Homo sapiens: one gene and its partners. The protein of the gene in region 3 interacts with the protein of the main gene of each other region in a pairwise test. Each region holds a gene or a part of one and is shown on either strand. Other genes may lie near its edges. The genes, in order: FAM114A2, PTN, TBRG4 and PRB3.

Evidence for each region.
Region 1: the proteins of TBRG4 (region 3) and FAM114A2 interact in binary tests that used the Homo sapiens proteins (3 or more experiments, as listed by UniProt).
Region 2: the proteins of TBRG4 (region 3) and PTN interact in a two-hybrid assay, tested with the Homo sapiens proteins (one large-scale study listed by BioGRID and IntAct).
Region 4: the proteins of TBRG4 (region 3) and PRB3 interact in binary tests that used the Homo sapiens proteins (3 or more experiments, as listed by UniProt).

What each region holds. Positions count from the first base shown.
Region 1 is NC_000005.10:153,999,542-154,004,423, forward strand, and holds part of FAM114A2 (protein FAM114A2), read right to left. Parts: intron 3,429-4,882; coding exon 3,306-3,428; intron 2,850-3,305; coding exon 2,710-2,849; intron 1-2,709.
Region 2 is NC_000007.14:137,248,967-137,253,848, forward strand, and holds part of PTN (pleiotrophin isoform 1 precursor), read right to left. Parts: intron 4,672-4,882; coding exon 4,498-4,671; intron 2,426-4,497; coding exon 2,264-2,425; intron 1-2,263.
Region 3 is NC_000007.14:45,100,848-45,105,729, forward strand, and holds part of TBRG4 (FAST kinase domain-containing protein 4), read right to left. Parts: coding exon 4,594-4,882; intron 4,196-4,593; exon of another isoform or gene 4,059-4,195; intron 3,863-4,058; coding exon 3,691-3,862; intron 3,636-3,690; exon of another isoform or gene 3,502-3,635; intron 3,410-3,501; coding exon 3,252-3,409; intron 2,597-3,251; coding exon 2,486-2,596; intron 1,645-2,485; coding exon 1,500-1,644; intron 1,224-1,499; coding exon 978-1,223; intron 768-977; coding exon 656-767; intron 526-655; coding exon 411-525; intron 1-410. UniProt on the Homo sapiens protein: Plays a role in processing of mitochondrial RNA precursors and in stabilization of a subset of mature mitochondrial RNA species, such as MT-CO1, MT-CO2, MT-CYB, MT-CO3, MT-ND3, MT-ND5 and MT-ATP8/6. May play a role in cell cycle progression.
Region 4 is NC_000012.12:11,265,930-11,271,458, forward strand, and holds the start of PRB3 (basic salivary proline-rich protein 3 isoform 2 precursor), read right to left. Parts: upstream 3,779-5,529; 5' UTR 3,741-3,778; coding exon 3,677-3,740; intron 2,740-3,676; coding exon 2,704-2,739; intron 2,220-2,703; coding exon 1,264-2,219; 3' UTR 1,247-1,263; intron 101-1,246; 3' UTR 1-100. UniProt on the Homo sapiens protein: Acts as a receptor for the Gram-negative bacterium F.nucleatum.

The DNA of each region.
Region 1 (4,882 bases), on a different chromosome or scaffold from region 3:
AAGAATCACTTGAACATAGGAGGCAGAGGTTGCAGTGAACGAGATTGCGCCACTGCACTCCAGCCTGAGTGACACAGCAAGACTCCATCTCAAAAAAAAAAAAAAAAATTGATGCTGGCAACAATTCCAAGAAAAGAGAATTCTTATACATTGTTAGAATGTAAATTAGTACAACCACTATGAAAACCAGTATGAAGATTTTTCAAAAAATAAAATGGAACTACCAAACTACTGGGTATTTAGCCAAAGGAAAATAAATAAATAAATTATATCAAAGGGATACCTGCACCTGCATGTTTATTGCAGCACTATTCACAACAGCAAAGATATAGAATTAACCTAAGTCAGTTGAAAAATGGATAAAGAAAATGTGGTGTGTATGCGTGTGTGTGTATATATGTATGTGTGTGTATATATATGTGTGTGTATATATGTATATGTGTATACACACACACATATAATGGAATACTATTCAGCTATTTAAAAAAAATGTCATTTGCAGCAACATGGATAGAACTGCAGGTCACGAGGTTAAGTGAAATAAGCCAAGCACAGAAAGACAAACACCTCATGTTCTCACTCATATGTGGGAGCTAAAAAAACATGATCTTACGGAAATAGAGAACAGAACAATTGTGATACCAGAAATGGGGAAAGGTGGGTGCGTGAGTGGGTGGGGATGAAGAGAAGTTGGTTAATGAGTACAAACATACAGTTAGATAGAAAAAAATAAAGTCTAATGTTTGATAGCAGAATAGGGTGACTATACTTAGCAATAATATTTTGTATATTTCAAAATAATGTAAAGCACTTGAAATGATACCAACATATAGACATAATAAATACTCAAGGTGATGAATACCCCAAATACTCTGACTTCATCATTATACATTCTATGCATATAACACTCACATGTACCCCATATATATATATTATGTATCAGTAAAATATTTTTTAAAAAGACGGAAAAGGCATTAAATTTGTGGGTGGAAGACATGAATGGAAATGTGTTCCAAATGACGGCAATCAAGTTTGGTACTATCCACAGTTTCAGGAATCCACTAGGGACTTAAAACATAACCCATACAGATAAGGGGTTACTACTGTATGCCTAAATCAGCCACCTGAGGTATAAGAAGACCCATCTGAGCAGGCACTCATGCTACATAAAAAGGAAGTTCAGTCCTTAGAAAAACATTTCTCTACAAAATTCTCTAGAAAGCAGTATATGTTCCAGTTAAATCAAATAGAAAATAATTAAAATACATTTTAAGGAGACAACATCATACTCAAAATACCCTACATTCCATTTAGAAAAGTTAAAATATGTATTAATTAATTCTCAGTTCTTAATAATAGTTATTAGTTATTAGTTATTAGTTACTGGGTGCTAATTTTATGCCAGGCACCATGCTAAGGGATTTACATGTATCATTTCTAATTTTTACAACAACTCCAAAAGTAAGTGATTAGTCCATCTTTAATAATAGTTACCTAAAGTCTTGTGTGTGCCAGATTTTATTTAAAGTCTTTCAAGCAATGGGAACATATCAGTGAACAAGAAAAGTCCCAGTTTTCATGGATTTCAACTTACTTGCTAAATTAAGGGGGAGACTATATACATATACATATATACACATACACACATATGTATACATATACACACATATATATTCATATACATGTAAGTCCTACTTGGTGATATAAGCTAAGACAATAAAGCAGAGTAAAAGGACAGAGAATGGTGGAAGTTGCTATTTTAGACTTTGTGGTGAAGGAAGGCTTTTCTAAAAAGGTGGCATTTGAGTAGACTTGAATTCAGAGAGGGAGTGAACCCCATTTCAAAGAACATTCCAAGTAGCAGAAATAGCCTCTTTTCCGCAGAACAGGCTCCTTTTAGGGTTGTGAGTCTCTCATCCTTAAGGAAGTTCAAGAAGACAAATTAGCCCCCTATTATGGGGTGCTGTAGTGGGATGGTGATGGTGCAAGTAAAGAGGAAGTCTGCAGAAGACTGACAGCCCCTCCCAGTTCTAATAATGGGCACTCTTATACATTTGTTTCCAATGAAAATTCTCATTATTTTAATCAGGACATTTGCTTAGAAACTACTGGGCTTTTTCTTCCCTACCTATGATTATCTATACTATTTTTGAAAAATTTTTGTACAAATCAGCAATAAAATGAGAAAAAAAGAATGGGTTCAGGACACTCAGTCAGACCTGGGGCTAAATCCCAGGCCATACAGCACAGACAGATTACTTAACTCCTCCAGTTTGCATTTCCTCATGATTAAAACTGGACTAATTACTTACTTTTGGAGGTATAAAAATTAGAAATTATACATGCAAATCCCTTAGCATGGCACTTGGAATGGTATAAAATTAGCACTCAATAATAACTATTATTAAGAACTGAGGTTCTTAGAACTCTTCTCTGTTTTCACTTATACCAAATTCCATTCCTATTAAAACTTATCTGTAAAGAAATAGTCTTCAGAGCATGAGTTGGTTAATAAAAAGGGCATATTTATAATATTGATTTATCATGGTTCAATGAAAAGAAAAAAACAACCAAAATGAACAAACCATCTAATATGTGGATGGGTGTGACGTGAATGGTTTCTTGAGAGAGACGTTTATAAAACTTTGGAAACAGGCCAAGAAAACTCCTGCAATTTGCATCATTTAGAGGAATTCTCATTACACTTACTGGGAAAGAGTTTGGCTCCTTTCTATGGCTGTCACTTCCTGCTTCCTGCCATGCAGAACCAATGCAGCTGTTTTGTGGAATAGTTCAATTGAGCAGGCAGTCAGTTCAGCCAGGCTCCGGATTGCAAACGCATGGATATCCTGGATGGAAAAACAAAACAAAGCATAGCAAAACAAAACATTTGGTGGAAAGATACCACCTTACTTCTCTCATACTACAGGATTTGTAGCAGAGACTAATAGTTGCCTTCCAATAAAGAGTGTCTTCTTCTTCCACAGTAGTGATATAATTTTACAGCTGGGCTCCCCTGAAGTCAGGTGTGACGAAGTAACTAAGTTTTGGCCAAATGATTTAGATAACAAGTGTCAGGCAGCAGTTTCTGGGAACCTTCCTCATGACAAAACACACGCGCATCCTTTCTCTCTTTTTTTCTTCACTCCTCCTTTAATCTTATAGTCTGGATCTAAGATGCTACAATCCTAGATCACAAGGTTGAAATTACGGACAGCAGTGTAAAAATAGGAGCCTGGGTCCCTGATTGTGACACATTTCAAATCTACTAAAACAAACAAAAAAGGCTTAGTTGCTTTGGCTACCTCTATTGAATTTTTGTTGACTTGCTCAGTATTTTCTGCTTCCGACTGTTTTTCTCCTTCTTCATTCTCTGCTAATGGCTTGGTCAGAGACTTCCTGATCCATTCGTGGGCGGTATTTCTTGCCTAAATAAGAAAAATATTGGCCATCAACAATTCAATTCAGTTTACCAAAATTACTGTGCACCTACCAGGAACACAATAGCATCCTAGAAGTAAGGGCTCCTGTTCTTACCTGAACGTACCATCTAGCTTTTCAGTCCTTATCCTACTAGTCTCAGCAATACTTATCACTGTGGTCCATCATTCCTTTTCAAAATTCTCTAATTGGTAGTATTTTTTTTTTTTTTTTGAGATGGAATTTCGCTCTTGTTGCCCAGGCTGGAGTGCAATGGCACAATCTTGGCTCACTGCAACCTCTGCCTCCTGGGTCCAAGCGATTCTCCTGCCTTAGCCTCCCGAGTAGCTGGGATTACAGGCGCCCACCACCACGCCCAGCTAATTTTTGTATTTTTAGTAGAGACGGGGTTTCGCCAGGTTGACCAAGCTGGTCTCGAACTCCTGACCTCAGGTGATCCCCCTGCCTCAGCCTCCCAAAGTGCTGGGATTACAGGCATGAGCCACTGCGCCCGGCCTCTAATCAGCTTTTTAAAAAACCAAGGTATAATTTACATAAAGTGCACAAATCTTCAGAGTATGGCTTAAGAAATGTTTTTATGTGTATATGCCTACGAAACCGTGATCAAGATATAGAATATTTCCTCATCCCTAGAAGGTCCCTTCATGTCCCTTCCTAGCCAATACTATTCAAACCATGTCCCCCTCCTCCTGCCCAAAGACAAACCCTCTTCTGCTCACTATAAATAATTTTTCCTAATCTTAAAATGCATAAAAATAGAAATATAAGTTCATTCTAATTTGTGTCTGGCTTAAGCACAACATAATGTCTGTTAGATTTATCCATGTTGCTGCATGTATTAGTTCATTCATATTAACTGCTGTGTAGTATTTCATTTTATATACAGTCATGCACCACATAATGATGTTTGGGTCAACAGCAGACCACATATATAATGGTGGTCCTGTAAGACTGTAATACCATATTTTTACTGTACCTTTTCTATACCATTGTGTTGCAACTGCCTACAGTATTCAGTACTGTAACATGCTGTACAGTTTTGTACAGGAGCAATAGGTTAAACGATATAGCCTAGGTGTGTAACAGGCTACATCAGCTAGGTTTGTGTAAGTACACTCTCTGATATTCGCCCAATGACAAAACTGCCTAATGATGCAGTTCTCATAACATATCCTCATCATTAAGCAATGCATGATTGTATATATCACAATTTATCCATTCTCCTGATAATGAATCTAGTTTTCTTTGGTTTTTGTAACCCCAACTTTCTTCTGTTCTCCTCTGACCTTTATGACCATTTCTCCTCAGTATCTTTTATATATTGATCCTAACTGGCCAGTCTCTTAAACGCCAATATTATTTGGAGGTCTAGCCTTCACTCTTTACTCGTCTCATCCTATTCCCTCTCCATCCATCCTATGCCAGTGGTTTCAACTATCCT
Region 2 (4,882 bases), about 92 Mb from region 3:
TGTCATTTTTTCAAGCTGAAAGCCTGAAACAAACTTAACCTTCATTACATGTTATTAGATGAGATACTGTATAAAGGTGAAATATACACCAGTTCAGGTAAAAGGAAGACTTCACTTATTTCCTAAATATCGTTTAGGGTTCTATCTTAATCATGTTCCCTGCTGTGTCCCATTTATTCCAAACTTTTCAACATTTTATGTGTTCACCCAGCCCCACCATCTTCCACCTAATCATGTCCCCACTTTTTCTCCCTTATTATAAAGTTGAATTTTCTCTTTCCCATAGGAAAGAACAGGACAGTGCACGTGTGTGTGTGTGTGTGTGTGTGTGTGTGTGTGTTACATGTGTATGCATGTGTGTGTGGTCTCTTGTCAATGGATTCCATACTAGAGCAGTAGTTCTCAATTTTGGCTGCATCATGAAACCTTCTGAGATGCATTCACAATTTTTAAACTACTGATGCTGATTGGGTTAGTCTGTGCTATACTTGGGCACTGGGAGTTTTGCAAGTTCCCACAGAATATTCTAATGTGAAGCCCAGGTTGAGCATCACTGTGCTAGAATGTGGAAGCTTCTTTAATTTCTTTTCCTTTCAATTCTGTATTTATGCTGAATATTTTGGTTCTACAGCTGGACTAAAAATAAATTATTTTGACTACAGTAACTCTGAGTTTTGCCATTTTTGGAAATGTTTCACTTGGTAGATAGGGCACTGATTTTGCTTAGATTTATGTGGTTGTCTCTGGACAAATGACATTTGGGAAGTCTGCATAAGTACTCACTGCAGTCACTCCAGCCCTGCTTCATGCCTTCCAAAAACCATATGACAACAGGCAGAGATTTCCATGATCTGGAAAGGGCAGCCTGAACCCTAGACTCACCACCTGCAGGTCCAGCCTGTACCTGGCCATCCTGAAGTTGGAGATAACTATTTCTATGGACAACTCCAGCAGTGGCCAAAAAGCCAGGCCTGTGAAAAATAAAGTCCTTTCTGGCCACCAGCAGGAAACCAGCCAATCTCCATCACCTTCTGCAGATTTTTTTTTTCTACTTTTATTTATTATGAGCATTTCTTACATGGTCATTTTTCTGAATCTCTCCTTACAATTTCTCTGGCAGTATGAATTTTCAGGACCACCTTAGAGTTAAAATATATGAGTAGAGGCCAAGAAGGTATTTGAATTTAGAGTTCATTGAGTCCCATTGTATTAGTTGGCTATAGCTCCTATAACAAAGTACCACAGAGTTGGTGGCTTAAACAACAGAAATTTATTTATTTATTGTCTTGCAGTTCTGGAAGCTACAAGCCTAAGATCAAGGCATCTGTAGGGCTGATTTCTTCTGAAGGTTCTCCCTATGGCTTGTAGATGGCATTCTTCTCCCTCTGTCTTCACACAGTCTTCTCTCTATGTATTTCTGTGTCCTAATCTCCCTTCTTATAAACACACCAGCTGCACTGGATTAGGGCCTACCCTTGTGACTGCATTTTATCTCAATTACCTCTTTAAAGACCCTGTCTCCAATACAGTGACATTGTGAGGGGGTTAAAACTTCAGCATATGAATTTGGGAAAACACAATTCAGACAATAACATCCATGATGAAAGAGTTTATTTCCCTCAGTTGGGATCCTTGTATGTATGAATTCATGGCCATAATGATTGTTTTTACCTTCTCCAGCAAGAGAGCAGAGCCTGACTTTCTGGGAGATACAGATCTCTGTCATTTAAAAATTCTGTGATGAATGTAGTTGGTAACCAAATTGAACTCAAAAAATATAAAGGCTCTGAAAACAAATGCAGAACCCATTAAGTTATGCAGTGAATAAAGGGAAAATGTAAAATAATTTTCCTGATTTTGTGAAAACTATATTTCAGATAATCTGGGAGAAGTTTGATTTAAAATTGTCTCCGTCATAAACATTCTGAGTTTGTTTTTCTTGTCAGGATACAGTTCCAATTAAGAGTGTGGAATATATGGTCATCATACAACTGTCTTTGCTGGTTTCTTTTGCTATGTTATTTATTTGGGTTAGGAGACTGTACCAATCCCCTCATCTATGCAGAGGACTTCAATTTGCACTCACAGGCTGCCTGCTTCAAAGTATTTTTAAAGTATTTTTGTGACTCTCAGTGTAGGGGAGTTTTTCAGTCACTTTCTTAAGGTAATTCACCTAATATTTCCTTCTGGAAAATGTGGGTTTTCCAGATCTTACCTGAGTCCATCAATCCATTAAAATTGTGGTATAATGGCAAGGACTTACCTTGAGGTTTGGGCTTGGTCAGTTTGCCACAGGGCTTGGAGATGGTGACAGTCTTCTGGCATTCGGCATTGTGCAGGGCTCGCTTCAGACTTCCAGTTCTGGTCTTCAGGGCTGTGTTCAGGTCACATTCTCCCCAGGCCTGGAACTGGTATTTGCACTCCGCTAAAGGCAGGGTAGAACCAAACAGAAATCCTTGAAAGATCCTATCGTACTTCCAGGATAATAAAGGCACACTTTTGTTTGTAACTTTTTTATTGAAATAATTATAGATCCATATGCAGCTATAAGAAATAATACAGAGTGTATGCGTGTGTATTGATTTCTGTTCAATTCTATCACATGTGTAGATGCATACGATCACCATCAATATACACCATTAATACACACTAATATACACTATTAATATACAGTCCCAATACAACAGTGGGTCATTCTTTATAGTCATGGCCTAGCCACCTTCCTCCTTCCCCACCTCCTTAATCCCCGGCAACTCCTTATCTGTTCTCTAGCTCTATCATTTTTCTAGCTTAAAAATGTTGCATAAATGGAATTCTACAATATGTAAACTTCTGAGATTGGCTTTTTTATTTAGCATAATTTCCTGAAGATCCATCCAAGTCATGTGCATCAATAGTCTGTTTCTTCCTATTGCTGAGTAGTATTCCATGGTCCCAATGTACCCCAGTTTGTTTAACCATTCATCAGCTGAAGGACATCCGAGTTGTTACCAGCCTTGGGTTACTACAAATAGAACTGCTATATAAATTCATGTATAGGTTTTTGTGGAAACATCAGTTTTCATTTCTCTGAGATAAATTACCAAGAAACTGCTGTGTTACATGGTAAATGCATGTTTCATTTCGTAAAAAACTGCAATACTCTTTTTCCACTGTGGCTGTACCACCTTACAATTTCCACTGGCAACATATGAGGGATCTGGTTTCTTGGCACCCTCACTAGCATTTCGTCTTGTCACTATTTTTTATTCTAGCCACTTTGATAGATGTAGAGTGATATCTCATTATGGTTTCAATTTCTAGTTCCCTAATAAGGAAAAGATGCTGAATATATTTTCAGGAGTTCATTTGTTGCCTATATATCCTCTTTGGTAAAATGTCTGTTAATGTTTTTTCCCCACTTTCTTATTGAACTGTTAGGTTTTGTTTGTTTTGTTTTTTGTTGTTGTTGTTTTGTTGTTTACTGTTGAGTTTGAGAGTTATTTAATATTCTCAATGTAAGTCTTTAAGATATACCTTTTAAACTTTTTGTAAGTGGGTTTTTAAGGTGCCCATATACAATTTAAGACCAAATGTACCTGTTCTCCATCACACTTTTATAGAACTTGTCTATATCCATTCAAATAAAAAATACCCCAAAGATTACAGAGGGAGAAAAAGACATACATGTATACATCCATTATCCTTCCTCACTTGTCTATGGGCCACAATGCATTTCCATAGAACACAGATAGGACATTTCAGGCATCATGTCCCACTATGGCTAAGAAAGACAAAAAGTCTGGATTGTGGAAGAGGTTATTTGAGGGTTCAATACTGGATATAAAGTTGAAAGTGTTGAGAGATCCTGTCTCAGATAGATAGATCAGGCCAGCATAAGACTGACTCCAGTCAGTGGGAGAAAGATTTATGAAACGTGGCTGTGAGCAGCCCTGCTGAACTCAGTAAGTGAATCTGTGAAACTGTGTGGAGGTTGGGGAGGGATCAAATGGGAGAGAAGGTCTGAAAGTGACAGGGAGAAACATGGAGAAGCAGGAGAATAAATAAGAAAAGGGGAAAGGAAAAATCAAAGGAACTTAGAAATAGAAGAAAGGAGAGAGAAGACAGATCAATTAACATTATTCAGAGGAATCAAGGATATATTTTATGTCCCTTTGGAAAGGCAGTGGTTCCCAACCAGGGATGATTTTGACCAACAGGGTACATTTGGCCATAGATATTTGGAGACATTTTTAGTTTTCACATCTGGAGCGGGTGAGGAATGCTACCGGAAACTAGCGAGTAGAAGCCAGCGATGCTCCTAAATACCCTAAAATGCACAAGACAGCCTCCACAACAAATAATTGCCTGGCCTGAAATGGGACCAGTCTGGTCACTTTGTGTCTGGTAAGATAAAGTTATTTAAAATAAAAAGTACTTATCCTTAAAAAGACATTTGGTGGAAAAATTTGAGAATTATCTCAGAGTAGGAGATTAACTCAGTAGCATGAGGCTTACCGCCAAATTGCTTCTTCCAGTTGCAGGGGATCTTACATCTCTGGGTCTTCATGGTTTGCTTGCACTCAGCTCCAGTCCGAGTGCCCTCCCGTGTGCCCAGCCCACAGTCTCCACTGGTGGGCACACACACACTCCACTGCCATTCTCCACAGTCAGACTTCTTCACTTTTTTTTCTGAATGAAAGGAGGAAAACCTAATCAACATACAGAAAACTCCTTAACTTCCAGATATAACCAAGTTCATTCCTGAGCACCTTAATTGCAGGATCTGTGTTTTTTAATCTGTATCCTTATTGTCTAATGAATAGTAGAAACATGATGAATATTAACCAAATTATTGAACCAATGAATGATCAAGAGAAGAGAGAAAGAAAACTGAGAAAAG
Region 3 (4,882 bases):
GACCTGCATCTTTCTGCTCCTGCCAGTTCCACTGGTCCTACTTTTCCTGACAACAGGCGCTGACCAAGGGGGCAGAGCAGCTGCACTCAGAGCCCCAACAGCTGTGCAGCCTCTTGGGCTTCAAGCTGCTCATCTGTGAATGGGCCCTACCCTGCCCACCTCTTAAGCTGAATAAGCAGGCTTGGTTGCCTTTTTGGGTTCACCCACGGGGTGAGATGCTGGGAAGGTTAGAGGGGAGGCTGGAGCAGCTAGGATCCACAGTAAACTCCCTCCCTGGGCTCCTGGGAGAGGCCCGGGGCCACGGGCAGGGCATGTGTCTATACCTGCTGGCTCAGTTCCACCTGATCCCCTCTCTAGCGTGGGTTGGGGATTCTCCCTGTGCAGTGACCACCTGCCCAAGAGGTACTCACGTCCACTATCAGGAAGCCTGCAGCCACTATGTGTCGCCGGGCCAGAACAAAGCGACCCAGCAAGTCCTTGCTTCGGCTGTTGAAGTTGGGGAACTCCCACCGCAAGAACGCTAGCCTGGAAGGAAGAAGAGGTGGCTGACATGCTTCCACTCTCCCAGCCCCTCGGAGGGGAAAGATGGAAAGCAAAGAATATGCAGTCCAACAGCCATGGTGCCCCCATGGCCAACAGGTCCCTGGCCACCTACCTCTTAGACCCTGGAGGTGGTGACTGGCTCCCAGTTGGCTGGGCAAGGTGAGGTGCCACAAAGTCCCTTACGGGCAGAAACTCGCCGTCACTGTCCAGCAGCACCTCAGCATCTGGGGAAGGGGTGTGGGATGAGAACATGTTGGGGGACATCCCTCAGAAACCCCCCCACAGGAAAGATGAACAAAGATGGGACTGTGGGGAGCCCAGGCTGACACCCTGCAGCTCCCTAGGTCAGTACTTGCTGCAGACGGGGTGGGTTAGAAGAGTCCCGTTAGACTCAGGCAATGCCAGGCCCTGTGCCAACCAGGGGGAGCCCTCACCCAGCACCCAGCCATACTGCGTGGCCACCTCGAGGCTGCCCTTGTCGGCGCTCCCCAGCAGCCCCTTCAGCGTCTCCTGCAGCTCCTTTTGCAGGGGGGTCACCTTCCTGTCAAGGGCTGAGGGCCCAGGGGCCACAGCCGAGGCAGGCAGAAGGGGACCCGAGTACTCGGGGTACTCCAGCAGGGCAGTGGCGTTGATGTGGAGCAGCTTCTGGAAGGTGTTCTGATCCTTCTGAGACTTGCCCCCTAGGAGACAAGGAGAAAGAAGAGGGAGGTGGGCCTACGGCCAGAGATGGGGAGACCCTGATGAGAGGGCAGTGCACCCCTACACCCAGTCCCAGCCCAGTTTTCTGGGTCAGGAGGCAGCAGAGTTACGGTCTGCTGGCCACCTACAGGGAGAGGATGGAGAGCGAGGGGGAGGGAGAGCCCTGGCCTCCATCTGCCCCAAATTCTCACCTGGCACTAGGCAGACAAGACCAGGCAGTTTCCCAGTTCCAGTAGTACTAGGGGCAGGGGGCTCACCTAGAAATTGGATGTGAAATTCAGGGTGGAGGACGGCTTGCAGCTCTGCTTCCCGTGCCTGCTGCAGCACACACAGGGCCCACACCAGGTCCACCTGCAGGGCTGGCTCCAGGCCTGGCAGCTCTGACCCCAGCTTCTCATGTACCTGGGCAAGGATAGAGTGTGGTGGAGAAAGCAGGCTCTCCTTAGGGGCTGCAAATAGCCATGGGTGAGACACAATCCATGATGTGGTCTTGGCCTGGTTGGGATGAGGCCAGAGGAGGCTACTAGGTAACAAGAGGCAGAACCCTGGCCCTTGGTGAGGCCTGGAGCAATCCTGGGCTTGAAGGTACCAGGAATCTTCCTCATGCCCCAAGACCACTCTGAACAGCAGAAGAGTGCTGCTGAATGCTGGCATTTGATTAGGTTTACTACAACCAACCTACTGGCAGGGAACAAGATCCCTTCTCCCATAATGTCTCCAAGTGAGCACCTGGGACAAGGAAGGAGGAATCTCTGGTCCTCTGAGAGATGAGAGCATCCAAGAGGTGAAGCAGCACTCCCCAGCCCCTGGCTAATTGTTCTCAGGACTGTGCCAGACAAACCCCTGATGGAATCCCAGGGAGCCTGGGATCACACCTGGCCTGCTGGCCTCTGTGGCTGTCCTAAGGTCTTCATAAAGAAGGCTCCCCCTCCTGCCCTGAGCTGGTGCACATAGCACGAAGGCCCACTGGAGCTTCTGAGCATCAACAGGGCATTAAAAGGAGCACCAGAGGCAGGACCCCCCAGCGCTGCCTGGCAGGGCAGTCAACCAGACAGCAGGATTTCATGTGTTCTCAGTAATCCCTAGGATGCCTGGCTCCAATCAGTTCCCCCTGCCCTCCCATGCCACACATAGTGGCCCCTCCCGCCTCCACCTAGCCCGAGCTGATCTTGGGAGGACGGTTCATGAGCCATTAGCTGAAGGGGAGGATAAAGGTCGAGCAGTGGGAGCCCAGAGGCCCTACCAGGCTGAAGAACTGATCCTCTTGGTCTGGATGGAAGTTCAGACGCGCAAAAGCCAGAAGTACGCTGCACAGGTGGGGCAGGGTGATGTCCTGCGCTCTGTTCAGGACGTGCTGGGTGGGTCAGAAATAGCAGAGGGACAGAATAAGCTCTCTGCCCAGCACGCTGTCCTCCTGCCTGGCTCTGAGTCTGAGGAGAGCCTGCATGGCCAGGGGCAATGGCAGGACCCTCCATCCAGGGCCCATGAGCTGTGTCGGGAACAGAGAAGGACTTACACAGGCCCAGACACTCCTTCGCCTGGCAGCAACTACCCACAGAGGCTGGGGACACCTAGAAGCTGCTTCTTTCTGATAAGGGATTTAGAAATATTCTCCAACCAGTAAACTTAGTTTAGACTGGTCACACATAAACGTAACTGCAGGTGTCATCTTTCTGTACAGTTCCACTTTGCGAGGGGGATCAGTGATTCAGTAGACAGTTCTCAGTGGATTCTCAGTCTCATCAGCCATGCTGCTACCTGCTACAGCTACCCCAAAATGGATGGAAGCACTTATAATGGTCAGTGAAAGAACAGAGGAAACAGTTCTCAAACACTTTTTTGAGAACTGAATAGCAGCCCTTTCAAAATAAGCCAAAATGCAAGAAATATGTATTTGCCCCCACAAGTGAGCATTTTCAGACTGGCTTTACTTTCCCGACTAAGGCAATGGTTCCCAGCAGATGGCCAGGAAGCCAGCTTCTCTGAGTTGGGGCCAGGCCCTGGCTCACCTGGGCAAAGGCCTCAAACAGGGGCAGGCTGAGCCACTTGAGTAAGGCGAAGGACTTGGCACAGTGGGCCACCTCACCAGAAGTCAGGCTGGGCATGAGGGATAGCAGGTCGGTGGCCAGGCGCTGGGACACCTGGGTCTGGTGAAAGCTGAGTTTGCCTTCAGGACAGAGCAGATCACAGGGTTTAGCTGGAGAGAGTCAGCAATCACCCAGCAGCTCCACCCCACCTCAGCCTCGAGGTCTAGATATTTGATGTCTGTAACCAAATTTATCCCTGAGCCTGGGACACAGGAACAGGGCCCATGAGTCACAGTGTTTCTGTGGCAGCCTTCTGGGCCAGTGCCTACCATGCATAGGACAGGTACTGAATTTGACACGGCTGCAGGCATCTGCAGGGCCAGCGCTCCCCTCTCTCCACCGTTCTGTCCAAAGGGCTCACCATAGGCATAGGCCACGTCCAAGAGCACATCTTTCGTCAGAGAGAAGGGCTTCTGCACCAGGTGGTAGGAGATGGCCCGCAGCAAGGGCACGGACCGCCGGCTCTGAGCTGCCAGCATCACCAGCACCTTCCGCAGCTCATTGGGGCCAAAGTGCTCCACCAACTCCAGGCACTGTCAACCACAGCCGCGCAGAGGTCAGCTCAATGGCCTGGGGTGGCAGAGATGAGCTGGGGGCAGGGGTCCCATGGTCCCATCCAGTGCAGCCCCTGTGACAGCCCCTGTCAGACTGGGCCTGAGCTGACTAAACACAGGACCACTGTGCAGGGCCTGCCTCCTCATCCACCCCAGGGAACCCCTGGACCTGGAGCACTGTCCACAGCCAAACTTATCCCCAGGTCCCAGGGTAGGTGACCCAGGGCCCATGAGCTGTGGAGCTTGCTGTGGCAGCCATCTGGGCCAGCCCCCGCTATGACAGAAACGGGCACTGAATTTGACTTGACTGCAGGGCTACAGCCGATAGGGGTTAGCACATCTCCAGGAGAGTTCTAGCCAGAAGCCAGGCCTGGGCAGTAGCTGTGTTACTTCAGGAGCTGCCTGCCATGCCCCCCTCTCAAGATCGTGCTGTGATGGGGTTTGGGGGAAAGATAAAGGTGCAATCAGGGAAGCGCCTGTGTTGGGAGGAGCAAGTGGTGCTTGATGAATGCAGCCACAGGGCAACCACCTGTTGCAGCTCCGAGCCCTCTGGTCCTGCCCCATGTGATGCCTGAGGCTCCAGACAGAAGCTCCCAGGGCTCTGATCCCAGTGCACACAACGCACCCCTCTGCAGACAACTGTCACCCAAAGAACAAGCCCAAAGCCCAGGGGAGGCAGGCTGGGTGCCACCTGCTTTCAGGCCCAGTACCTTGTCTTCCAGGCGGTTCATTAGTGGCTCCGAGAGGTGTCCCACCTTCATCATGACGGTCACTAATGTGTGGGAATCTTCAATTTCTGTCCAACGCCTTTCCAGGTGTGTGAGCAGCTCAGCCAGCAGCTCCTGCGAGTGCTGCTCCTGTGAGAGGGTGGCACAGGACTCTGCCAGGAAGGCCAGGTGCTTGTACTTGAGCTTCCGCATGCGCCAGCGGACCTCCTGCTCCACCGACTGCAGCTCCTTGGAGGCCTTGGGGATGCCCAGAGCATACAGGCTTCCCAGC
Region 4 (5,529 bases), on a different chromosome or scaffold from region 3:
GTTTATTTTATTGGTATATTAAAGGTAGAGCTATGACCACCTTCTTCCAATGTCATGGCATTTGAATCATTTGAATCACTGTCATCTTCTTGTTCACTTCCTGAAACAAACAAACAAGGAATTTCATAGAGCAGACTTGACATGGCAGGAAATGTCGAATTCCTCACTGGTGTTACTGCAGTAGAGTACATGAGATCCCATCCTCTCTCCCCAATCCCTTCAACCTCCTGTGATTCTTTCCTGATTTTTTCTGTGTTCACTCTTTTGATGCCCTTGCACACAATGTGCTCCAAATTGTTGCTGAGAAGATGAAGAGAAAAGATCATCCTTAGGTTGTTATGACTCATTGCTGTTGAATTTGTTCAGGGATATATTTACACATATGATAATCAGAACCTATTTTATAATAGTGATAAGATGAAACCACCCTCAGTATCCAGTGACAGGGATTGATTAAAGAAATCATGGTGCAGCCACACAATGGAGTAGCATAAAATTGTAAAAGCAAACAGAAAACCACTGAAGAGATGTATTTAGCTTCATAAACTGATGTGGAAATTTTCAAGAAGTGTATTTTTAAATGACTACCATATATACCTGCATATAAGTTATGGTATTAGTGGTAGGGTAAAAGAATGCTGTATGTCTATGCACACATAAATATTTCAAAGAGAAGATCCCATAAAGTCAACAGTGGTAGCTTTTTGAAGGAAGGAAGGTGAGTAGGATGAGCTACGCCTTTAAAATTAACTTCATATTTTTCCATTCCATTAGATATCTTTTGTTAGCTTAATCATGTACTTACTGAAAACTAAGTATGTAAAAAATGAGACACCATTTAGCTGCTGAAAGATCAGGGACCATTTGGCAGGAATACTGGACTCGAGAGGCTGGCGTGAGGCAGGAATGAGCAAACAGTGCTCAGGTGAAAAATTTAAATGCAATATCTCTGAGTTTGTGGACCGAAAGCAGAGCACCAAGAATGGACATGGTACTACTTCCTCATTGCCAACACAATTTAAGACAGATTGTATGGTATGTTGTTTCTCAACATCAGAGTTCCTTAAAGAGTTTGTTAGAAATACAGGGTCTTCTTACCCTATTCCAGAGTATCTGAATACAAATCTTTAGAAATGGGTTCTAGGACAATACAATGTCAATGGGTTTTTAGTTGATTCATTGGCACAATAAAGTTGGAGAACTGTAACACTTAGAGCACTTGGTGAAGAATAAACTGGAATCATACCTGTCATTGAACCTTGATTACTGGGGAGGCTGTCCCTGGGGAGGTCTGTGTGGTCTGCCCCCTTGAGGAGGTGGAGGTGGTCCCTGGGGCTTTCCAGCGGGAGGTGGCAGAGGCTGCTGGGGATTGCCTCCTGGTGGGGGTGGTCCTTGTGGCCTTCCTGGAGGAGGGGGACGTTGAGGTTTGTTACCTTCTTGTGGGGGTGGTCCTTGTGGCTTTCCTGGATGAGGTGGGGGACCTTGAGGTTTGTTGCCTCCTTGTGAAGGTGGTCCTTCTGGCTTTCCTGGACGAGGTGGGGGACCTTGGGACTGGTTTCCTCCTTGTGGGGGTGGTCCTTCTGGCTTTCCTGGACGAGGTGGGGGACCTTGAGGTTTGTTGCCTCCTTGTGGGGGTGGTCCTTCTGGCTTTCCCGGACGAGGTGGGGGACCTTGGGACTGGTTTCCTCCTTGTGGGGGTGGTCCTTCTGGCTTTCCCGGACGAGGTGGGGGACCTTGGGACTGGTTTCCTCCTTGTGGGGGTGGTCCTTCTGGCTTTCCCGGATGAGGCGGGGGACCTTGGGACTGGTTTCCTCCTTGTGGGGGTGGTCCTTCTGGCTTTCCCGGACGAGGCGGGGGACCTTGGGACTGGTTTCCTCCTTGTGGGGGTGGTCCTTCTGGCTTTCCCGGACGAGGCGGGGGACCTTGGGACTGGTTTCCTCCTTGTGGGGGTGGTCCTTCTGGCTTTCCCGGACGAGGTGGGGGACCTTGGGACTGGTTTCCTCCTTGTGGGGGTTGTCCTTCTGGCTTTCCCGGACGAGGTGGGGGACCTTGGGACTGGTTTCCTCCTTGTGGGGGTGGTCCTTCTGGCTTTCCTGGACGAGGTGGGGGACCTTGGGACTGGTTGCCTCCTTGTGGGGGTCGTCCTTCTGGCTTTCCTGGAGGAGGTGGGGTACGTTGGGGCTGGTTTCCTCCTTGTGGGCGTCGTCCTTCTGGCTTTCCTGGAGGAGGTGGACACACGGCATTCACTGAATAGTTGCCGCAAATTTTTACAGTAACGCAGCTAAATGGGGAAATGCACAAAAATAAGACCCAGACACTAATTTCTTTGCATTTTCAGTGAAGCTCTAGAACTCTGGAGTGGAATGCTGGAGAAGAAGGAAGCAGTTGAGGGGCTCTCAGTCTAAGGAGGAGTCAGAATAAGGACACTGGCCATTTGTCTGTCATCTCCCAGCAGGCACTCCTGGCAGGAGGGAAGTCAACCCACTCCCGTTTTCATCTAAGCCAAGCATCTCTGCCATTCAATTTGGTGGCCCTGCTCATGGTCCCCAAAATCAAGGTTGCATGAAGATTGCCTGCATTATTAGGGGGACTAATATTAATCAATTTCTAAAGGAAAATGTTGGTGAGAAGACACTGGAGAACTGATCCATTCATAAGCAGAAGAAGATAGTTAAAACAGATTGAGAGTGAATTGGGATTTACCTGATATTACGGAGGGAGATTCTTCCTGGCTGACATCTAGAAGAGAAGCACAGGATGATGGGAAAGGTTACATCTCGAATTTTGCAAGATTCACAGGTGTTCTACAGGGAAAGGGGACTTCTCACCACACCCCATGCATCCCCTAGGTTAGCTCATCAGCTACCATCTGTGAAGCTGCTGGAAGGGGAGGAAGGTGTAAGGGGAGGCAGGGTTGTTACCACACAGAGCAACAGCCATGAACTCAATATAGAAGAGCCCCTTTTTTTCTTCCCTAGCATCCTTCAAGACTTAATGCTAATTTAGTTTACACATGCCAGGTACTTCAATGTGATATTTTGGTATTCTTATGCCCTCCATCTCCTATAAATACATTGCTTATATTCACAAGCTTTCTCAATTTCGGTAACCAGAAGTAATTGTTTCAATACAATCTTACCTATACCACTCCCAGCACATTGAAATACTGTGTGTAGGGGAAAGAAAAATCACAATGATTGAATCTGATATTTCTATATCTGTAGTTAGACACAGGCAAGTGTTTTATCCAGTTCTGTCTCTGCAGTATCTCTAATGTGTGTTTATCTCCATCATCAATGCTGATCCACTAGGTAGAGCAAGGCCACAATCATCCCTGTGTACTTACTGAGATCAGTTTAGGATCTTCACAGCTGGACTTTCCTGAATCTGCCTTGCATTCACCACTGCATCCTTCACAGCACAGTTCTATCTCTCTATAAATGCAAATCTTACCTTCTCATTCCCCTGGTACAAATTCTTTATTGGATTTTCATTGTACATTAAATAAATTAGAAGCCCTTGGTGTGGAATGAGGGCACAACAGGTCTCCTGATCCTAGGCATGAAACCTCTGCAGCCCCATCTGTGTTTTCATTCTCCTCTCTTCCCCATAATTACAACTATCACCTCCTAAGCCCCAAGCAGAGTCACCACATCTTCTCCTCCTTCTGTCTTACCTTCATTTAAGCTCTGAGCTGAGCTCAGGGCCAGCAGGGCCACCGACAGCAGAATCAGTAGCATCTTGCTGGAGGCTCTGGAGTCACTCCCAACTCTGTGCTGGGAGAACCATGGCAGCTCCCTTTATAAAGAGGAGCAGAACAGTGGCACCTTTGAGCTCCACACTGGGTGGGCCTCACCACCCCAGAGACTGGGTTCTGCTTTCCTTACTGCAGGTCAGGTGTATCCCTTATTTCTGTCTGGGACTCTAGCCCAGAGGAACAGGTTGGGTTGGATGTTGTTTGTACCTTATTTCTAAAAGGTACAACTATGACTTGAACAAAGGTTTTAAAGGAACTGTGTCCAAGCAATCAGCACGGTGTCATAATTGAACTTCAGACGTCATTAGAGTTTCAATCTTTTTGGTAAGACTATTGTCCACTTTCAACTTTGCTATTTATTTCTGTGTATGTGTGTGTGGGCAGTGAAGCTACAGCCAGCGGTGATGATGATCAATATCTCTGGCTGTTTTTATAGCCTATTTCCATCTCTCGTGATGTGTGTGTACAGAGAGTATCACATTTAGCTTAACTTTTGATGCGATAGAGATAGTTTCTGCTATCTGGGAGATGTTTGAGGACAGCACACTCCTGGGCACACAGATGACAGAAGGCTGCCTCACAGCCTACTCAGGCTACAGCTATTGTTCATGCTTCTGTGGATCTCACTCAAGTCAGGAAAGGCTTCTTGTTGTGAAACACAGGAAGGCCAAAATTGTGTATTTTAAAGTATCTTTAGGGGTTATGAATGCAAAATGGACACACAAACCACGAGGAAATTTCTAGACCTGAGAAAACTGAATATATAGTTCCTTGCAGGAACCATGCAATATCATGTTGCCAAAACTTCCTTCATGCTCTTCCCTTTCTCTAGAATATTCTACAAAATTCACCCTCTGCTTCATTTCTTTTAAGAATTGTATTGAATTCCTACCTCTGATAATTAAGTGGCTACAATTCTACATTCAAATAAGGTAATCAGATACCCTCATTAAAGCCTCAATTGCATTGTATTGGTTTTCTTGGTTTAGTCAGTATTTGTGTTACCTGTTTTCTCAGATTGTTCTTCCACAAAGAGTATTTTTTCTACAATATTCTGATATGCATTCCTCCCTGACGTTCTTTCTGGTACTTCTTTGTTCATATTTTATTTTCTGAGTCAAGCTCATTTTGTGTAATTTTCTTTATATATCTGGCTTTTTTCCCCAGGAATTTGGTAAGATTTCCTTTATTTAATCTTCTAAGTAATAAGCTATAATTCTCACCACCTTTGTTTCATTCTTGTCTGTGTAATTTCACAATAAATGTTGTGTTTCCAAAAAGCCCTCTCAGAGTCCTGCATTGTTAGCACTTCTTTTAGCTGCTGATTCTTCTGTTATACCTAGTAAATCCCTGCTCATCAGTTCATGGAATATACAGGTTAGTCAGTGAGTCAGCTGCCATTTACCACTTAGACCTTCTGTGTGTCTTGTGTAATTGTTCACATTTTGTGCATGGCTGGTATTAATTTGAGGACAGCTTGGCTGGAGGTATGATGGAGGTAGAGAGGGTATGTGACAGTAAATCCTAAAGACAGACCTCTTGACCATTGTGGATGAGTGGATCCTGGACTGTGCAGATGAGGGTCTGGTCTGGCCCTTCTGAAGAGTTGGGGGTAATAGTACAGGAAGACTTCCTAATACAGAAGGCTTTGCTACAGATAACTTTGCCCTTGCAAGGGAACCAGGAAGATTGATATTTTCCCTGGCAAAAATATAGACATACTTGAAAGGGGAATATATTATTAATTGGAAATTATTTCTGGCTCTATGGAA